3 linked regions of the Homo sapiens genome follow. The protein of the gene in region 3 purifies or fractionates together with the protein of the main gene of each other region. This does not show direct contact. Each region holds a gene or a part of one and is shown on either strand. Other genes may lie near its edges.

What was found.
Region 1: the proteins of CCDC51 (region 3) and CDSN purify together in Homo sapiens (affinity purification with mass spectrometry; 3 studies listed by BioGRID and IntAct, with this or other methods). This does not show direct contact.
Region 2: the proteins of CCDC51 (region 3) and JUP purify together in Homo sapiens (affinity purification with mass spectrometry; 3 studies listed by BioGRID and IntAct, with this or other methods). This does not show direct contact.

The regions. Positions count from the first base shown.
Region 1 is NC_000006.12:31,117,447-31,124,944, forward strand, and holds the start of CDSN (corneodesmosin precursor), read right to left. Parts: upstream 3,001-7,498; 5' UTR 2,974-3,000; coding exon 2,889-2,973; intron 84-2,888; coding exon 1-83. UniProt on the Homo sapiens protein: Important for the epidermal barrier integrity.
Region 2 is NC_000017.11:41,762,712-41,769,740, forward strand, and holds part of JUP (junction plakoglobin), read right to left. Parts: intron 6,967-7,029; coding exon 6,707-6,966; intron 6,497-6,706; coding exon 6,258-6,496; intron 4,870-6,257; coding exon 4,668-4,869; intron 2,357-4,667; coding exon 2,212-2,356; intron 2,106-2,211; coding exon 2,002-2,105; intron 611-2,001; coding exon 272-610; intron 1-271. UniProt on the Homo sapiens protein: Common junctional plaque protein. The membrane-associated plaques are architectural elements in an important strategic position to influence the arrangement and function of both the cytoskeleton and the cells within the tissue.
Region 3 is NC_000003.12:48,431,672-48,437,147, reverse strand, and holds the end of CCDC51 (mitochondrial potassium channel), read left to right. Parts: intron 1-2,011; 5' UTR 2,012-2,019; coding exon 2,020-2,331; intron 2,332-3,171; exon of another isoform or gene 3,172-3,276; coding exon 3,277-3,441; intron 3,442-3,981; coding exon 3,982-4,740; 3' UTR 4,741-4,975; downstream 4,976-5,476.

The DNA of each region.
Region 1 (7,498 bases), on a different chromosome or scaffold from region 3:
GAGGCAGGGGTCGTTAGGGGAGGTGATACGCGTGGGGTCCTTACAAGGGTCTGAGAAGGTGCCAATGCTCTTAGCCAAGGTCCCTGTGGAGGAAAGCAGTGGTTAGTAAGGGCCAAGGAGGCTTGGCTTCCTCCCTCACCTTTCTGCCTTATCTCAGTCATCGGCCTCTCGGGTTTCTCCCAAGCAGAGCGCAGGGAGAGTTTAGGGATGGAGAAAGGAGGAAGAACTGGCTATTGTCTCTAAAGGATATTGAGGTGGCCGAATAAAGGCATTTCTTTGTTTGGGAAGGGTGGGCAAACACCAACCAGAAAAATAGAAAATTAGGTGCCAAAGTGAGTGGCCTCAAAGGAATACATTGAATATAAGAGGGGGCTGGGCACAGTGGCTCACGCCGGTAATCCCAGCACTTTGGGAGGCCGAGGTGGGAGGATTGCATGCGCCCCAGAGTTCAAGACCAGCCTGGGCAACATAGACCCCGTCTGTATTTTGTTTTTTAATTAAAATTTTTTTTAAAAAGAAGAGGGAATGGAGAAGGGGCAGGAACAAGTAGGTCTAAAAGAAAGGACCCTGAAGAGACAGAGAATTGGGGAAACTGAGGCTCTGAGGAGTCCAGGCGTAAATTCTTAGGGGAAAAATCCTGGGCCAGACAGTGGGACCAAAGGGAAGAAGACAAAAGGCAAAACAATGGAGGGCTGAGAAGTGGAGACACATATAGAAGGAGACACTGGAAAAAGACAAAGCTGGGGGCAGAGGGGCTGAAATAAAGGAAAGGGCACTCGAGGACTAAGATTTGGTCACCAGCTTCTTCGTGAGAGCCCAGGCTGGGGTCAGGAATGGAAACCCTATTTCCTATCTCAGCACTGGCCATGCCAGTAAAGCTGGGTGGGGGCCAGGATGTGGGGTCACTACCTGTTGCTTCAGAACCTGCTGGTACCAGTGTGTCAGGACACCGCACCCTGAGCCAGCCCTGCTCTCGCTGGCCCAGCCCAGGGAACCAGGACGAAACCCCACGAACCTCCGAGGCTCCTGGCCACAATCAGCTTCCCTCTCTGAGCACACCTGCCTCTGTCCAGCCCCTCATCTGACTTCTGCTGCCTTGACTTCCCTCAGGGATGTGGAGCCACATCTTTCCTTATCTTTCCTTTCCTTTGCTCAAAACCCCAGGCCCAACTTACCCCGTGGTTCCTCCATGACTCTTTCACCTGCGTTCCTTCTGCCTTCCCTAGCCCCTCCAGGTCCCACGTGTTACAAACAGAGCCACATACTAGCAAGTTACTGAACCTCTCTGAGCTTTAGTTTATACATTCAGAGGGGCCAAATTTTCCCTGCCTTCCCACAGCATTACTATGAAGAAAACTAAATGAGATCATCCACCTGGAAGTTTTTTCTTCTTCTTCTTTTTTTTTTTTTTTTTTGTGAGATGGAGTTTCTTGTTGCCCAGGCTAAAGTGCAATAACACGGTCTCAGCTCACTGTAACCTCTGCCTCCTTGGTGCAAGCGATTCTCCTGCCTCAGCCTCCCAAGTAGCTGGGACCACAGGTGCCCGCCACCACACCCAGCTAATTTTTTGTATTTTTAGTAGAGAGGGGGTTTCACCATCTTGGCCAGGCTGGTCTTGAACTCCTAACCTCAGGCGATTCACCTGCCTTGGCCTCCTGAAATGTTGGGATTACAGGCACAAGCTATCATGTGCGGCCAGATGTTTTAGAAAGTGTAAAGCATTATATATTATGAATTATTACTGCCACTCATCCTGATCCCTCCACCAACAACCAGACTGCCATCCTCTGTGATGTCCCTGTTCTCTCCTCAGAAAGAAATTCTCTGCATGCACCTCCACGCCGAACCCCAGCTGTGCCAATTCCCTTCAGTCCTCTGCACGAATCCACCATGCATTGCCTCTCTCTTTCGCTATTCCCTCAGACACCAACCACCCACTAGACCATGGGAAGGTCGCAGAAATTCCTCAAGGGCTATAAGTACCCGGTGGTCAACAACACAGGTCCAGGGGTTGCCCGGCCTGGGGTTGAAATCTTGGCTTTGCTGCCTTCTAATGCATGATCTTGAGCTACTTTCCTAACTTCTCTGAGCCTCAGTGTCCTCATCTGTAGAGTGGAAATAGCAAATCTCCTTTCATACCGTTCTTGTAATGATCAAAAGTGCTAATATAGGCCGGGTGTGGTGGCTCATGCCTGTAATCCCAGCACCTTGGGAGGCTGAGGCGAGCGGATCACTTGAGTCAGGAGTTCAAGACCAGCTTGACCAAAATGGTGAAACCCTGTTTCTACTAAAAATACAAAAAAAAGAAAATTAGCCAGGTGTGGTGATGGGCACCTGTAGTCCCAGCTACTCTAGAGGCTGAGGCATGAGAGTCGCTTGAACCTGAGAGGTGGAAGTTGCAGTGAGCCGAGATTACGCCACTGCACTCCAGCCTTGGAGACAGAGTGGGACTCCATCTCACAAAAAAAAATAAAAATAAAAGTTCTAATATATAATCCAAATGTGCTTAAAACAGAGTCTAGCATATAAAAAGGCTCTAAAAATGATATTATTACTATTAAATGTCCAATCATTATCTTGTAGTGCTCCCATAATAAAAATCACCACCACCATTTATATAAACCTCTAGAATTTCCAAAGTACATATCACATACATTATTTAATTTGAGACACACAGACTAGAGTTAGGTGTCATTAACCCCACTTCAGAGTTTCAGAAACTGGGGCTCAGGAAGTTTAAGAAACTTACCTGAGGCGACCATACAGTGAGGAGCAACCCCCAGACTCAAAAGGCAGATTCCAGAGCCCCTGCCTGTCCCCTTCGCTGGGTCCTCTCCCGGAGTCTCCCTCCCGCCTCCCTCCTGTTCCCAGGGCCCCCAGCCTCCTACCTGGCAGGAGGAGACCAGCCAGCAGCAGTGCCATCATCCCGTGCCCACCCACACGCCCCATCCAGGGTGCCCGAGACGAGCCCATCTCGGACTGCACGGCCTCCTGACTGATGGCAGCTCAAGGACACCCGGGTCCTTTATGCCAGAGCTGGACATTCCCTGGGCAGGAGTCACTGTGGGGAGAGGAGGAGAGGTGGAGGGGGTGGGTGCCCCAGGGGAAGTTGGTGTGGCCGGGAGGAGCGTGGTAATCAGCCCGGTGCATCTGCCTACTCAGCAGCAGCAGTGGCTGCAGTGTGGGGTACCCATGGCCACGGGGCTCTAACGATCCTGCCACCTGACAGGCCTGGCCCCGGCTCCTCATTGCCTAACCCGGAACCAGGCGCTCTGCCCCACGGCCACCCACTCTGGGGCGGCCACTCTTGCCACGGGACCCAGCTGCCTGGCTCCTTAACTCTCCTGCCTACCGTAGCTTGGCCTGTCTCTCCATCTGCCCTCCACTCGCAGTCGTGGGTGTTTCAGCTTTTTCTTCCACACTTGGGTGCCCGCTCCAGCCCCACCCACCCAACCCCAATGAGGTCCCATTCACAGCCCCTGATCTGCTCCTTCCTTAGGACCCCATCACTCCACCTCCACTTTCCTCCTTCAAATATGAGTTCTGCCCCCATCCCCCAGGCTCCCCCTCCCACCACTCCCCAAGTACCAGGCCAGCCACATACCTATTACGTGTTCCATCACCTGGGGAACTTTCTCCTTCTCAGAAATGGGGCACCACATTCCCAAAACCAACTCCCTGACCTGTCGCTTCTGGGGGCCTCTGGGGACGGCATGGTGGCGGGGGTGGGGGGGTGCTGGGAGCCAGGGCTCAGCCAGGGGAGGGGCCTGGGCTGATGACCTCTGTCAAAGCTGGGCCTTGGTTACTCACAGGGCACTCACAGCCCCTCCCCATGGCTGGTAACCCAGACCTCAAGGGTGAGCAAGAGGCTAAGAAGGCTAATTGGGAAGGTGGTGGCCCCATAGCCCATCTGCTGGCCCTGGGCTGGATGAGCGAGCAGGAAGCAGCAGCCAGCTCTGGGCAGGTCGAGGAGGGCCAGGCAGGCTCCCGGGTCCTCAAAGGATGAAAGGAGGCCAGGAGAACCGGAGCCCTGCCATCTGCTGAGAGGGTGGTGGCTTCTCCTCCATTGCGTTGGCCTCCCTCCTGCTCTGGCCCCTGCCCCGCCCCAGCCAATTAATTGCTCACTAGTATTGCGGGAGTATCAGTATCGGAGGGAGGTGCCTGGGAGTCCAGCAAGCTGCCCTCTCCTCCCCCAGGCCTCAGACACCCCTGCTCCCCTCACCCAAACTCACTTCCCAAACCTCATCTCCTCACAAAGGCAGCTCTGTCCCTGGGCCCCTTGGCCTGGTCTCTCCCATTCCCTCTACCTCCTGACCGCCCTTTAAGTTCAGACCAGCAGGAGGATGGAAATGTTTCCTGTCTGTGCTGTCCGATACGGTAGCCACTGGCCACATGGAGCAAGTTTAACCACCAAAGATTTGGAGCTTTAATTTTAATTAATTGTAATGATGTGGTTGGCCACGTGCAGCTAGTGGCTGCCATCTAGTCTTGCTCTTGACTTGCTAGTGACACTCAGAATGGGAGTGGGAGGAAAGAGGGGCTGAGGGAGCTGTGGAGAGAGGAAGGGATAGGACAGGGTCCCCTGAAGGGGGCTAATGCCTTGGGAAAAACAAACAAACAAAAAACACTGGCTTCAGAATGAAGATGACGTGGGTTCAAGTCCCAGCTAACCTCTTGGCTTTGGGCGGCTCTTCAAACCTTTCTGAACTTCCATCTCCTCATCTGTGAAATGGGGGTATTTTAAATAACACTTATTTCACAAGGTTTTTGTGAACATCAAATGGGAAATTATCAAAAAGGTTAAATGGGACAAGGGGTGCAGTCCCCCAGTAGGAAGCCCAGCAAATGGAGCCCTGCAGGTGCTCCTGTCTTCATCCTTCCACTGGGGGAGACAAATAGGCCAGCTTCACCCCCACAGCCCCAGGCTCCCTTTCCTGAGTCTCCAGCCCAGCCAATGCTAGCAGAGTGTCTTCTGCTCCCTTCCTGCCTTGTATAGAGGTGCAGGCACAAATGTGAGACAGAGATACCATTTAAAGTGATGCTGCTCGGCTGGGCACGGTGGCTCACGCTTGTAATCCCAGCACTATGGGAGGCCGATGCGGGCGGATCACTTGAGGCCAGGAGTTCGAGATCAGCCTGGCCAACATGGCGAAACCCCGTCTCTACCAAAAATACAAAAAAAATTAGCCAGGCGTGGTGGTGGGCGCCTGTAATCCCTGCTACTCGGGAGGCTGAGGCAGGAGAATCACTTGAACCCTGGAGGCAGAGGTTGCAGTGAGCCAAGATTGCACCATTGCACTCCAGCCTGGGTGACAAAAGGGAAACTCCGTCTCAAAAAATAAAGTGATGCTGCTCTTTCCGAACATCATTTCCTCCTGTGGGCCTCCCTAGACTCTCAGGCTTGGCTCCCTGGAGGACCTGGGCAAGGAGGGAGGGGGCACTGGGGTAATGAGGGGAGTGGCAGAGGGCAGGGAGGAGTGGACTAGAAGGTGCTGGGCCGTCCCAGGGTGTGAGGGGAGAAGGCAGCGGAACAGTGGAATCTGTGGCTTCTTCTTTTCCAACACAAACTTCCCCTGACCAGCCAGAGGTAGCAAAGTTTGTCTTGTTTTCTTTGTCACATTCCTCCTGGCTGCCGTCAGAACTTGGCCAAGACAGCCAGGCTGGAGGAGGCACAGTCTCTCCTGGCCTCCTGCCAGGTCTCCAGCCGCCCACGTGGACTGGCGGTGCAGCCACGTCCCTCCTCCTGGCTACTCTCTCCTGTCCACTCCTGTCCACCCCATCCTGCCACCCTGGGCTGCCCAGTTCCTCTACTGTCCTGCCCACCTGTGGGCCCTTGAGCTCTAATCCGCCGTGCTTTTGGTTTTTTACTGAAACCCTGCCTTCTGTGCTAGATTTTACTCTGGTGCTCACCATTAATCTTTCTCTCAGTGCAGGTGGTGGAGACCTAAAGCTAATGGGGCTTAGGAGGGAAGAAAAGGGCATCAGCTGAGTGCCCACACAGGCCAGGGTCACCTTCAGTGAAGCTGCCAGTTTGGTGACGTCCACAGTAGTGCAGGCAGCTCTGCTGTGTTCTACAGCAACAGATTCTGGCCCTGCCCCTGCCCGTGCCCGTGCATTGGACCGGGTGAGAAAGTGTGGGTGGCGTAGACACTCTACACCCGAGAAAATCAAGCTCAAAGCACATGCCTTCCATAGGCAAAAGGTGGGGCTCCCAGCCATGTATCATGAAGCAGGCAGGTCACTGTCCCCTCTGGTCCCCTCCACCCCTCCAGCAGCCCTGTGCTGCTGTGTTTGCTGTGCCAGCCTTGGCCCCCAGTGCACGCTCCTCTGCTGTGTTTTGGAAGTTGCACTGAGAAAGAAGAGAAATTGTTCCTTGCCCTGAGGAGCTGCCATCCAGCTGGGGACACACAGCGTAAGACAGCAGCCTAGAGTGGAGAAGCGGGTAGGCACTTGGCTTCAGGGAGGTGGCAGGACTTTCCCCGGGCCTTGAGGAATGATGAGAGAAGCACAGAGCAGGCAGCCAGACGTGGGGCCTTGTGGTGCTTCAGGTGTATTTAGAACCAGCGGATGGCGTGGGTTGGTGTGGGACATGCATGTGGAGGACAGTGGTGTGGGAGAAGGGACAGGCTGCTTGGATCAGGATTGTAGATGACCTACAACACCAGGTTAAAAGAATTTGGATTCTATAGGAATTGCAGTAAATGTGAGAGGGTGCAGGGAACCAAACGGCTTTGAATGATCACAAAGGGGGCTGAAGCATGGCGTGCTATAGTCCCAGCTACCCAGGAGGTGGAGGTGGGAGGAATCCGAGGCCAGCTGGGGCAAGTTGAGGGACTCCATAAAGAGGAGGCTTGGGGCACGAGATCCACCATGTACTGACTGCCTGCTGCAGGCGGACACGGTGCCTGGGTATTTAACATGAGTTGTCTTGTTCAATCTTCACAACAGCCCTACAGGGTAAGTGCTTTTTCCCCCTGTTTCACAGATGAGAAAACTAAGTTGAAATTATTTGTCCAAACCAGCTGCTAACAAGCAAAAATGTTTGAAAAAGATTCAAACCCAGGCCTGTTGGACTTCCAGGCCCACATAGATCCTATTACTCTGCAGCTGACACCATGCTATAAATGAATGGCAGAGGTTCATGGACAGGCTTAAGAGGCTCCCTAAACCCTGTAAGGATGTGTGCAAAATTCCTTATGTATATGAATATTTCTAGAGAGAAGATTTCTGCTGTCAAAGCTGGCCAGGTATGGTGGCTCACGCCTGTAATCCCAGCACTCTGGGAGGCCAAGGCAGGTGGATCACTTGAGCTCAGGAATTTGAAACCAGCCTGGCCAACATGGCAAAACCATCTCTACTAAAAATACAAAAATTAGCCGGGTGCGGGGGCAGGCACCTGTAATCCCAGCTACTCAGGAGGCTGAGGCAGGAGAATCATTTGAACCGGCGAGGCGGAGGCTGCAGTGAGCCGATTTCATGCCACTGCACTCCAGCCTGG
Region 2 (7,029 bases), on a different chromosome or scaffold from region 3:
AATTTAATGAAACCACCCAGGGTACTCATGTGCATTTTGAACTCTGAGCTCTGCCCTAGGGGCTGGTAGAGCTACAAGATAGAAATCCCAATTCTGGAATTTTAGAGCAGAGCCATTGTTGAGGTCTAAACTATTACACGAGAGAGAAATAAACTTCTGTCTTATTCGAGCCACTGTATTTAGGGCTTCTTTGCTACAGCGGCTTTGCCTATACCAATACAGCACCTAAGCCTGCTGCAGGGAGCTCCTTCCCCTCGCCTAACAGCAGTACCTTGACCAGTGGCCACTGGTTGGGCTGGTTGAGCAGCTTCACGATGGCTGGGATGCCATAGTTGAGACGCACAGAGTTCTGGGCCATCTCGGCCTCAGGGTGGCGGCTAGTGAGGTGGCGCAGAGCGCAGACGGCAGGCTCCGTGATGTCGTCCTTGTCACCAGCACGCAGGATGGCATGGATGAGAGCCTCCACACCGCTGTTCTGTGTCACCAGCGTCTTGTTCTTGCTGTTGTTGCATGTCAGGTTGGAGAGTGTGCCCGTGGCACAGGTGAGGACGTTGACGTCATCCACACTCAGCTGATTCACCAGAATCTTCAGCACACTCTCCAGGCCCTCCTGGAGGGCAAGGAAGGGACGGGGGAGTCAGGGAGCAGCCAACTCCAGGGAGCCTTCTCGAATATGTCCAAGGGGAGTGGGATGACCTAAAGGGGTCAGCCCTGCCTGTGTGTGCCCGGGAACTTTCATCCCTATGACCCGCCACACCCTGTGAGAGGGCGTTACTATCCTGTGGTGCAAGTGAGGCAATGAGGCTCAGAGAGGTTGGGGAACTTGCCCACAGACACACAGCTAGTGGCTGGATCTGAACCCAGGCTTGGCTCTAAGCCCCACATCTCTTCCCTCCAACTCATCAGCCTTTCCCTGGGGCCCTCAGACCCAGGCAGAACCCTCCTCAGGCCAAAGTACGGTGGCCAAGGGAGGCCTCGAGACCAGGAGGCAATTGTTGAGGGGGCCGCATGATTCAGTGGCCCAGCTGAGCCATGTCTACTCGCTTGTCACCTTTCTGGGCCTTCACTGCTGCCCCACCACCCTGGGGCCCTGAGCCAAATCCATTTCCAGTAAAATCACTACCTCAGACGTCTATCTCACTTCTCCCAGGGAGACACGTGGGCCTTGTGGTGGAACAGAAAAACCCCAGCTTTGGGGACGGACAGTCCTGGGTTCAAATCCCAGTTCTGCCATTTACTACCTGTGACCATGGCCATTAGCTCCCCGAGCCTCAGTGTCTTCATCTAACCCACAGGGTCCCACACTCTAACCCCAGGTTGAATGAGCTACTGTCCACAAATGCCACGCAGAGGGCCAGCACAGGGTGAGCACTTGATAAACAGCATATTGCTAGGGGAGGCCTGGGGAATGGTTGTTGGAAGGAGGCACAGGGCACTTGCCCTGGAGCTGCATTTTTCCTTAAATTGTATTTTTAGTCATGGGGGCCTGTCTCTTGGTACACTATTGCTCCAGCCCAGGGCCCAGGTCAAAACTGTTCTTTTGCTGGATGTGGTGGCTCACGCCTGTAATCCCAGCACTTTGGGAGGCCAAGGCGGGTGGATCACCTGAGGTCAGGAGTTCAAGACCAGCCTGCCCAACATGGTGAAACCCTGTCTCTAATAAAAATACAAAAATTAGCCAGACATGATGGCAGGTGCCTGTAGTCCCAACTACTCGGGAGGCTGAGGCAGGAGAATCACTTGAGCCCAGGAGGCGGAGCTTGCAGTGAGCCGAGATTGCACCACTGCACTCCAGCCTAGGTGACAGAGTGAGACTCCGTCAGAAAAAAAAAAAAAAAAAAAAAAAGAGATGAGGGTTTTCAAGGCATTTCCAGCCTCAGTCACAAGGAAGAGAGATTTAGAGCCCCCAGTCCTCCCACAGTACCTCAGGTCAGATGCCCAGACAGGAGGCTGGATGGGGCAGCTGAAGAGGTCAACCCCAGGCCCAGATACCTCCCTCACCTGCTTGGTGGCCACATCTGAGAGGTTGCGCAGGGTCCACAGGCAGTTCTGCACCAGGCGGGGGCTGTTGCTGGTCAGGTGCTTGCCCAGGGCCTGCATCCCACCTGGGGCAGGGATAGGGGTGCCATCAGCCACGGGGAGCATGGCTGACTGAGCCTGGCAGCTGGGCAGAGCTCCCACCCCAGCCGCCCTCAAGGCCATCATACTCACCAGCCTCCACAATGGCAGGCTTATTGCTGGGACACACGGATAGCACCTTGAGCACACGACTGGTGGTCCAGAGCAGCTTTTCATAACTGTAGTTACGCATGATCTGCACGAGGGCCTGGGGCCCACCATTGGCCAGGATGATCAGCTATGGGTAAAGAGGGAATGAGTGTGAGATGGACGGGGAATATGACAGGAACAAGGAAGCGCGGGACAGGAGACAGAACTGTCATTACTGAGCTTCAGCTAAAGCACGAATAGTTCGTTTTTTTCTTTTAATGTATTTTTTTCTTTTTATAAAGATGGGGGTCTCACTATGCTGCCCAGGCTGGTCTAGAACTCCTGGCCTCAAGTGATCCTCACACCTCAGCCTCCCAAAGTGCTGGGATTACAGATGTGAGCCACCACACCCAGCCAAGCACCCCAATAAGTTTTTTTGTTTTTTTTTTTGAGATAGAGTCTCGCTCTGTCACCCAGGCTGGAGTGCAGTGGCACGATCTCAGGTCACTACAACCTCCGCCTCCCGGGTTCAAGCAATTCTCATGCCTCAGCCTCCCAAGTAGCTGGGATTACAGGCGTGTGCCATCACGCCCGGCTAATTTCTGTAGTTTTTGGTAGAGACAGGGTTTCACTATGTTGGCCAGGCTGGTTTCAAACTCCTGACCTCAGGCAATTCACCCGCCTCTGCCTCCCAAAGTGCTGGGATTACAGGCGTGAACCACCACACCCAGCCCACCCCAATAGTTTCATGACTGTTATGTAAGCCAAAATTTTGAAAAAAGGATAATACCCAGTGCTGACAAGGACATGACAAAACTATATGCACACCCATTACCAGTTATGGCACTGGAAATTAGTCCAGTCCTTCTGGAAATCAATCTGGCCATTTGGGGAAAAGCCTAGAAGTGTTAAAAATTGATGAGAATTTTTTCCGCTCTTTGACAAAGGCTAGACATTCATTACAGCATTGTTTATAAAGGTGGAATAGGAGCAATCTAAATACCCTCCCTCAGAATAAAGCCTGAGGTCTCCACTTAATGAAATGCTATCTGTAGGCTGGGTATGGTGGCCCATGACTTTAATCCCAGCATTTCGGAGGCTGAAGCAGGAGGATTCCTTGAGGGTAGCCTGGGCAACAGAGCAAGACACCATCCCCACAAAAAATTTAAAACTTAGCCCGGGTGCTAATTAGCTCAGTAGTATGTTCTCATAGTCCTAGCTATCAGGAAGACTAAGATGGGAGGAATGCTTGAGCTCAGGAGTTTGAGGATGCAGTGAGCTAGGATCATGCCACTGCACTCTAGCCTGGGTAACACAGTGAGACCCTGTCTCAAAAAAGAAAGAAAAGGAAAGAATGGGAAGGAAGGAAGAAAGAGAGGAAGAGAGGGAAAGGAAAAGGAAAAGGAAAAGGAAAAAGGAAAGGGGAGGGGGAAAGGGGAAAGGAAAGGCAATCTGTCATTATTAGAGGGTGGTTTTGAGGACAATATAGCAAAAAAAAATTTTTTTTAAACATCATACAGGCCAGGCACAGTGGCTCACACCTGTAATCCTGATACTTTGGGAGGCCAAGGCAGGCAGATCACTTGAGCCCAGGAGTTTGAGACCAGCCTGGGCAACATGGAGAAATCCCATCTCTATAAAAAATTAGTTGGGGGTGGGGCACGGTGTCTCATGCCTGTAATCCCAGCATTTTATGAGGCCGAGGCAGATGGACAACCTAAGGTCAAGAGTTCGAGACCAGCCTGGCCAATGTGGTGAAACCTTGTCTCTACTAAAAATACAAAAATTAGCTGGGTGTGGTGGCGGGCACCTGTAATCCTAGCTACTTGGGAGGCTGAAGCAGGAGAATCGCTTGAACCCGGGAGGCGAAGGTTGCAGTGAGCCGAGATCGTGCCATTGCACTCCTGCCTGGGCGACAAAGTGAGACTCCATCTCAAACAAAAAAAAAAAAAGAAAGAAAAGAAAAGGAAAAAAAAAATTAGTCGGGCGTGGTAGCACACGCCTGAAGTCCCAGCTACTCTGGAGGCTGAGGTAGGAGGATCATCTGAGCCCAGGAAGTCAAGGCTGCAGTGAGCCCTGATTACACCACTGCACTCTAGCCTGTGTGACAGAGTGAGACCCTGTCTCAAAAAAAAAAAAAAAAAATCAGGCAGAAAACAGATGCAATATTGCAGATTGTTATGATGACAAGGATGTGTACACATCTGTAATCTGCCCACAGAACAGCTCTTAAGGAAGCACATCGAAATGACAATAGTGGCTATATGAGGATGAGTGATTTTTTTTTTCCCTTATCCTCAAAATAATAATTCTGGGCAATTCAGTCGCATGATGAAGCATGTATATCTGCACCTATATCTCATCTAAAAGGAGTAAGGGGGCAGCGGCCCAAGGCTGTGCAGGATAGAAGATGGCGCAAGGGTGGGCTTCAGGCCTCGGGAGAGTTGGGGAGGGCCCACCTTGCTCTCCTGGTTGCCGTAGGCCAGGAGCTGCAGGCAGTCGGTGGTGATGGCCAGGAACTTGGGGTTGTTCTTGTTGAGCAGGGGCACCATCTTTTGCAGCCCGTCGGCCAGGCGCACGGCCATCTTGGCGCCCTCCTGGTACAGGAGCAGGTTGTGCAGCGTGGTGATGGCATAGAACAGGACCGACTCCACAGGGGAGCTGGGGGGGTGGGCAGGGGTTAGTACGCTGAGGTCCCAGAGGCCTGGCATACATGTGAGCCTGGCATGGGTTCCCACCTCCCCCAGGAAGCCTCCCCGCTACTGACGCCCCTCTGGAAATATCCCTTTGCTAAAATCTCATCACTCCTTGAGCCTGCCCTGCTCTTAAGCATGAAGCAAACAGCACCTCTCTTCTCCCAACTGGGACAATGACTCCTCCTGCTTCTGAGTCCCCAGCCCTGTGCTGAGCGCACAGTAGGTCCCCTAGACACTGATCCCTACTAAGTAACCACCATGTGGAAGGCCACATATTAGAGAGGCCTTGCAAGGCGTTCAGAGGGGAGTGAAATCAGTGTCTCCCCTTCAGGGAGCTTCCAGCCTGGTATGGGAATGAGAAATAAGGCCAGGAGCAGTGGCTCACGTCTGTAAACTCAGCGCTTGGGGAGGCTGAGGCAGGTGGATCACCCTGAGGTTAGGAGTTCGAAACCAGCCTGGCCAACGTGGTGAAACCCCGTCTCTACTAAAAATACAAAATTGAGCTGGGCATGGTGGCAGACGCCTATAATCCCAGCACTTTGGGAGGCCAAGGGGGGCAGATCACCTGAGGTCAGGAGTTCAAGACTAGCCTGGCCAACATGGTGAAACCCCATTTTTACTAAAAATACAAAAATTAGCCAGGCATGGTCGTGGGTGCCTGTAATCCCTGCTACTTGGGAGGCTGAGGCAGGAGAATCTCTTGAACCCGGGAGGCAGAGGTTGCAGTAAGCCGAGACTGTGCCATTGCACTCCAGCCTGGGCAACAGGAGGAAAACTCCATCTCAAAACAAAAAAAAATAGCTAGGTATGGTGGCAGATGCTTGTAATCCCAGCTACTCAGGAGACTGAGGCAGGAGAATCATTCGAACCCAGGAGGTGGAGGCTGCAGTGAGCTGAGATCACGCCACTGCACTCCAGCTTGGGTGACAGAGCAAGGCCTCATCTCAAAAAAAAAAAAAGAAATGAGGCCAATCCACATTTTGTAGGGGGCCAGGAAACAGAAAGTTTGCAAGGGACTTTGCATTTGCTGTTCCCTCTGCCTGGGACACTCTTCCCTTCCTCTGCACTAGCCAAACTCCACTCATCTGTCAATCCCCTGCCATTAAGCGATTCCACCTTTGAGCAATCTCAATGCTCTTCTGCCATAGCCTGTGTCGTATCCTGATCATTAACCTGCTGTTTACATGCCTGTGTTCCCTGCTGGGCTGTGAGCCACCGAGCACCCGGATGGGGTGTGCTTCTGCCTGGCACATAGTAGGTGCTCACTGGATATTTATGGAAGCTCAGGGAAGGGAGGGGAGAGGCCCAAGTGAGAGGGGGTCCTGGGCTCATGCAGTGAGCAGGGTTGGGTACCTGAGCATGCGGACCAGAGCAGGGATGCCACCCGACTTGAAGATGGCGAGCAGCCCCTCCCGGTGGTGGGAGAGGTTGTGCAGGATGCTGGTGGTGCAGCGGGCTGTGTCCAGGTCGCTGGTATTCTGCATGGTACGCACGACAGCGGCCACCAGCTGGGGCGAGCCCATCAGGGCCCGCCGCGACGCCTCCTTCTTCGACAGCTGGTTCACAATCATGGCCGCCTTGGTCACCACCACCTGGAGGGCAAAGGCAGGGGCGGGGACGTGAGCACTAAGGAGAGGCCGGGATACCCTTCCACAGAGCTGAGGAGGGCCCCAGTCAGACTCATCACACACGGGAGAGTCTGGGTCATAACCTCCCTCCACCCCTACAATGTCCCTCCCCTGAGGACATCTGCTCTCTCCCCTCCCTGCCCAGCCCCCACCCTAGCAGGGACCCTCACAGACCGGGTCCTCGTCGTTGAGCAGTTTGGTGAGCTCGGGCAGGGCGCGAGTGGCCAGCTCGGCATCGTCCTGGTAGTTGATGAGATGCACAATGGCCGACTTGAGCAGCTGGGACGGCTCGGCCAGTCGCTGCAGGTTGGTGGCCTGCCCCTCCACCTGGGTGGCCAGCAGAAGCGAGCTGTCCTCGCCTGACACACCAGGGCACATGGCCTCCCGCACCCGTTTGGCCCTGGCTGTTGTGGACATCTGGTACTCCAGATCACCTGGGGGCCATGGGGACAGGGACTGAGTGCAGGCAGTGGGCTGGGCAGACACTGGGGAGCAGG
Region 3 (5,476 bases):
TATTTGGGCAAAGATGAAGATGTCGGGGTGAGCCGAGTAGACTCGTGGAGGAAGAGTCATCCAGCTGGACAAGGTGGCAGGGCACAGACCAGCACGGTGGCTGGAGCAGAGTATGGCAGTAGAAGGAAGAGGATGAGGGCTGAGAGGTCTCAGGATTTCTTGGCCACCGCCAGGTGAAATGGGAGCTGTTGGGGGATTTTGATCAGAGGGATGTAATCTGATTTTTGTGTTACAGGGCCTTGGGCTGCCATGTGCAGAACATGGGGGTGGGGGACGGCAGGGGAGAAAGCCGAGATTGCATAGGAGACAGTAGCTGTCATCTCTGCCAGGAATGGGTGACTTTGCTGGGGTCTAAAAATGGGCAGCTAGTAGAGGAGGTGCTGGGAAAGGAGGCTGAGAAGGTTGGAGGAAGCCAAGAGGGGCAGTGATGTTGGGAAGAGAGGGTGTTGAAAGTGGTGCCAGCCATGGCGGACACTGCATGCTTTGTCTGATGAAGGATACACCTGCAGGGGTGTTATAGGATCTCAGCCTGTGTGTCATGGGTGCTGGCCTTGAGGCCTGGGAGTCTGACTGGGCTGCTGGGGCCTGGATGGTATGCACCCTCATGGGCATGGAACCCAGCCTTATGAAGGGGGCCCAGGGGTTTGGGTGTGGCACCAGCTTGGGATCACTGTCACAGTGAAGTTCCCTTCTGCGGCTCTCAGCTCAGGCCCACTTTGCCCAGAAGACATGTTTCTACCCAACCAGCTGTGTTTTCAAAGCCGCTGAGCTTCTCCAAAGACAGTTCTTAGCACAGCATGATGGAGAGGAGGCTAGGGTGCTGTGGGGAGCCTCTGTCTCATATCACCTTCCATCAGGAAGCCCCTTTCTATTCTGTATCTGGAGCTCCTTCAGTTCCTTCCTGTCTGCAGCTCCCTCTGCTTTTCTCTCTGTGGCGTGGTCTGTTGGCCACCAGGTGTCGCTCTCACAGCCAGGATCAGTGCTTAGGGACTTTGAGGTGTGGTTTGGCCAGAGGAGGGTGCTGTTGGCTCAGCTTTTTCTGGGAAAATGGGTCACCTGGCCACCTCTTTGGGGTCCTCAGAGTCACTGGCACTCTTGGGCTCAGGTGAGGCCTGATTCTGGATAACAGGAGACTCCCTGCTGTCCAGGTAATGAGAAGCAGGCCCAAACATCAAAGCAAGATGGAAAAGGGAAAGATGAGAGAAACCTAACCTGTTGAGCAATGGCAGGTTGGAGAGGAAAGAGAAAGCTTATGGAAGTCGTGAAGTGTGAGACTGAGAGTTGGTAGCCTGGAAAGTCTGGGGGCGGAGTTGTATGGCGTGAACCTAAGAAAAGTCCTCTGTGGCAAAAACAGTTTTGTTTTGTTTTTTTTTGCCCCTGGAATTATCTTAGAGGAGAGCTGAGAGTTTTCTGTCTTGGGTCACAAATGGCCTGTGTCCTTAGGTCCTTGCACAGAATTGAAACTCTGCTTCCCTTGTGCTGAGGCAGTCCTTGGAGAGTCTGGGGAGTTGGTTTTGAGGCTGTTTTACAGAAATGATCCTGGATCTTAGTCTTCCTGAATTCCCCTGAGTTCCACAACATTGCAGGGAGTATTTATGCGTCTTTGTGGGGCTTTGTCAGCATGTGTACAAGTCTGGTTTAAAAACTGTCTTTGACATCAGAAACCTGGGCACCAGGATTCTCATTCAAGTCACAGCAGAGAGACCTGGAGGATGTAGGGAAGTGGGTAGCAGGGAAGGGTCCGCTTTGTGTGGCATGGTGGCGGGCACTGGAAGGTATGGCATCCTAGAGGCTCGTCCCCAACTGTGTTCCATTGTCCAAGAGCACCCAGAGGAGAGCCTGACCATCCTCTTGCCACAGGGGCCACAGTCTCTGGGCCCAACAGGGTGGTGCTCAGTTTAGATGATTTGAGTGGGGATTAGTCTGTTCAGAACTGTCCCTAGGCCTCAAAACTGACTTATGTCCAGCCTTTCTCAGCTGTGAGCTGACCTGTCTGGCGTCCCCCTCACAGATCTCAGGATGATGGGGCGCAGCCCTGGGTTTGCCATGCAGCACATCGTGGGTGTGCCCCACGTACTGGTTCGGAGGGGCCTCCTTGGAAGGGACCTCTTCATGACCAGGACTCTCTGCAGCCCAGGCCCAAGCCAGCCCGGAGAGAAAAGACCTGAGGAGGTGGCCCTGGGGCTGCACCACCGCCTCCCAGCACTGGGAAGAGCCCTGGGGCACAGCATTCAGCAACGAGCGACCTCCACAGCCAAGACTTGGTGGGACAGATATGAAGAGTTTGTTGGACTCAACGAGGTTCGAGAGGCCCAGGGAAAGGTGACAGAGGTGAGGAGGGGAGCTGGGGTGGCTGGCCCCGCCCTCTGACTTGGGAAATGTGCCAAACCAGTCACGTGGTGCTGGGTAGCCACATCCAGACTTGTGTTTAGCCTCATTTCTCACGTGGAAACCTGGGCTTGATGCTTCTGGGGTGAAGGTCTCCATGTAACTGTGCCACCTACTTTCCCCGAAAACAGTTACTGTGTACCAGTAAGTCCCTGGCCACTAACATCCACTCTGTGAGGCCAGCAAATACTTCCTTTGTGGACCATTTGGGGATTGATGGTGAGAGTTACGTGGGGCTTGCTGCGGTACTGTTACTGTGTGTAATTACAACATCTTTTGTGAAGATAGAGGGCACTAGGAAATGTCACAGTGTGAGGTGGAAAGAGCTGGTGGTGGTTGTCAAGTCCTTTGTGGTGGCAGAAATGCATTCTGTCATCTCTGTTCCCACTCCTGCTTAGGCATGTAGTAGTGTAGCGTGGTGGGAAGAACCTGGGGTTCAGCTGGGACTTTGAGACAAACAGTGCCATCTCTTTCCTTGGAGATTGTGAGCTTGGCTGAGCTGGTGTTTCTGGGTTTATAAACTGGAGGCCACAGCAGTGCCTTTCATGGCATTGTTATAAGGCATAAATAAGGCAACACACGGGAAACAGCCTACCAACACAGGTTTGATGGACACAAATTGTGTGCATTGTTAGCTGTTTTCAAGTTTTTTCAGGGGCATGTTATTTCTGCTTGAATGGCTAAATCTCGTGATTCTGATGGGTGTGGCCCAAGGCTGCACTTTGAGCACCACTGGGTGAGCCAGGATTAGTGTCTAAGGAATTCCGTTTCCACCCTTTGCAGCTCACACCCCAGTGACCTCTTCTGGGAATGCCTTGCTGGGAATGCAGCTGAGCCTGTGTGGGTGTGGAGAGAAGGTGCAGATGGCCTCCGGTTTTCTCTTTGCAGGCTGAGAAAGTGTTCATGGTGGCTCGAGGGCTTGTCCGAGAGGCTCGGGAGGACTTGGAAGTTCACCAGGCCAAGCTGAAGGAGGTGAGGGACCGCTTGGACCGTGTCTCCAGGGAGGACAGTCAGTACTTGGAACTGGCTACTCTCGAGCACAGGATGCTGCAGGTAGGCACCTCAGGAGGCAGCCCTTTCGCACCTGGACAGTGACCCTAGCCTGGCAGATCATGGAGGGGCCGGGTGGGAACCCTGACTGGTCTGTAGTCAGAGGCCTGGTACAGAGGTGAGCCAGAAGCTCCTATGGATGGACAGAACCCCAAGCTTCCAGAGTCTATCCATATACTTTCTTCTGGAGTACTGGGGCCAACTCTTCAGGGCAGCGTAGCCTGGGACTCAGAATGCTGAGGAAGGAGAACTATGGAGGGGCTGGCCTAGGGAGTGCTGGACACTTCCCTTTGTGTAGACATAAGTGCACCTCTGGTCAAACCCAGAACTGCTCAGGTGGGACGATCATGCAACTCACTTTGATCACTCCCAATTCCTTTGCCCTTCTGACCCAGCCAGGTTGGTGCTACCTTCATTCATTCAGCATGGGTCTATGGAACATGTACTCTGCCAGGCACAAGGTAGTGAGCCATCTGCTGGTGGCTATAGCTGCAGGGCCACCTTGTGCCCATGTAATCCAATAACATGGCTTTGCTTCTGCAGGAGGAGAAGAGGCTTCGCACAGCCTATCTGCGTGCAGAAGACTCTGAGCGAGAGAAGTTCTCCCTCTTCTCTGCAGCTGTGCGGGAAAGTCATGAGAAGGAGCGCACAAGGGCTGAGAGGACCAAGAACTGGTCCCTCATTGGCTCAGTCCTGGGGGCCCTGATTGGTGTGGCTGGCTCCACCTATGTGAACCGTGTGCGACTACAGGAGCTGAAGGCTTTACTCCTGGAGGCGCAGAAGGGGCCTGTGAGTCTCCAAGAGGCCATTCGAGAACAGGCGTCTAGCTACTCCCGCCAGCAGAGGGACCTCCACAATCTCATGGTGGACCTGAGGGGCCTGGTACATGCTGCTGGGCCAGGGCAGGACTCTGGGTCACAGGCAGGTAGTCCCCCGACCAGAGACAGAGATGTAGATGTCCTTTCAGCTGCCTTGAAAGAGCAGCTTAGTCATTCCAGGCAAGTCCATTCATGTCTAGAAGGCTTACGAGAGCAGCTTGATGGCCTAGAAAAGACTTGTAGCCAAATGGCTGGGGTGGTTCAGCTTGTAAAGTCTGCAGCACACCCAGGCCTGGTGGAACCAGCAGACGGGGCTATGCCCAGCTTCTTGCTGGAGCAGGGGAGCATGATCTTGGCACTGTCAGACACGGAGCAGAGACTAGAAGCCCAAGTCAACAGGAACACCATCTATAGCACCCTGGTCACCTGTGTGACATTTGTGGCCACACTGCCTGTGCTCTACATGCTATTCAAAGCCAGCTAACCCCTGGCCCCTCCTCCAGAGGGTCTGAGGCAATAGCTGTGAATGTGGATTTAAGTAGAGAATCGTAGCAATGAAGCGAGCCTTTGGGGGCATGTACAACCTCAATCTGAAGGAGCAGTATCTGTGTGGCTCACCAGCAGGCATGCTTCGCTTTGTAGACAAGGTTCATTTACATTAATTATCAAAACTTTGTGCTAATGTCCAATTAAAATATCCTGAGTTTTATTATTTAAAACAATCAGACTGAGTTTTTTTCATTAAGAATCAAGATCCAAGACTTGAAGGTTGGGCCTGGAGTTGGGGTAGTCACCCCCTTTAGTTCCTCTCTCATCTCCTCTCTGTCCTCTTTTCTGAACTGTTATGGATGCACTCCTGAGGCCTAGATTTTCATTTTGGATTTCCTCCAGTTACCTGACTGTCCGGTGTCAGATGGCCTGGGAGTTCCAGTGAGTGGAACCTAGCCTGCTGCCTACTCATTTCGTGACCATGGTTGCTTCCCATCTCCTGGATCACTTTCTCTACCATGTGGGGGAGAACTTCCTGGTTCTAGTACTGGAGGAGTGATCAGAGGAGAGCAGGGAAGGGAGATTGGGAGAATGGTTGATAAATGTTGCTGGGGACATAAGTATAGGGATTGGTGGCCAGTCTGGATCCCTGGTACAGAGATTGCTTTGGGCAGCAGTGGTGTGCCACGGGGGCTGGGTGCACACCCCCACACAGCCCGGGGATATCTTCC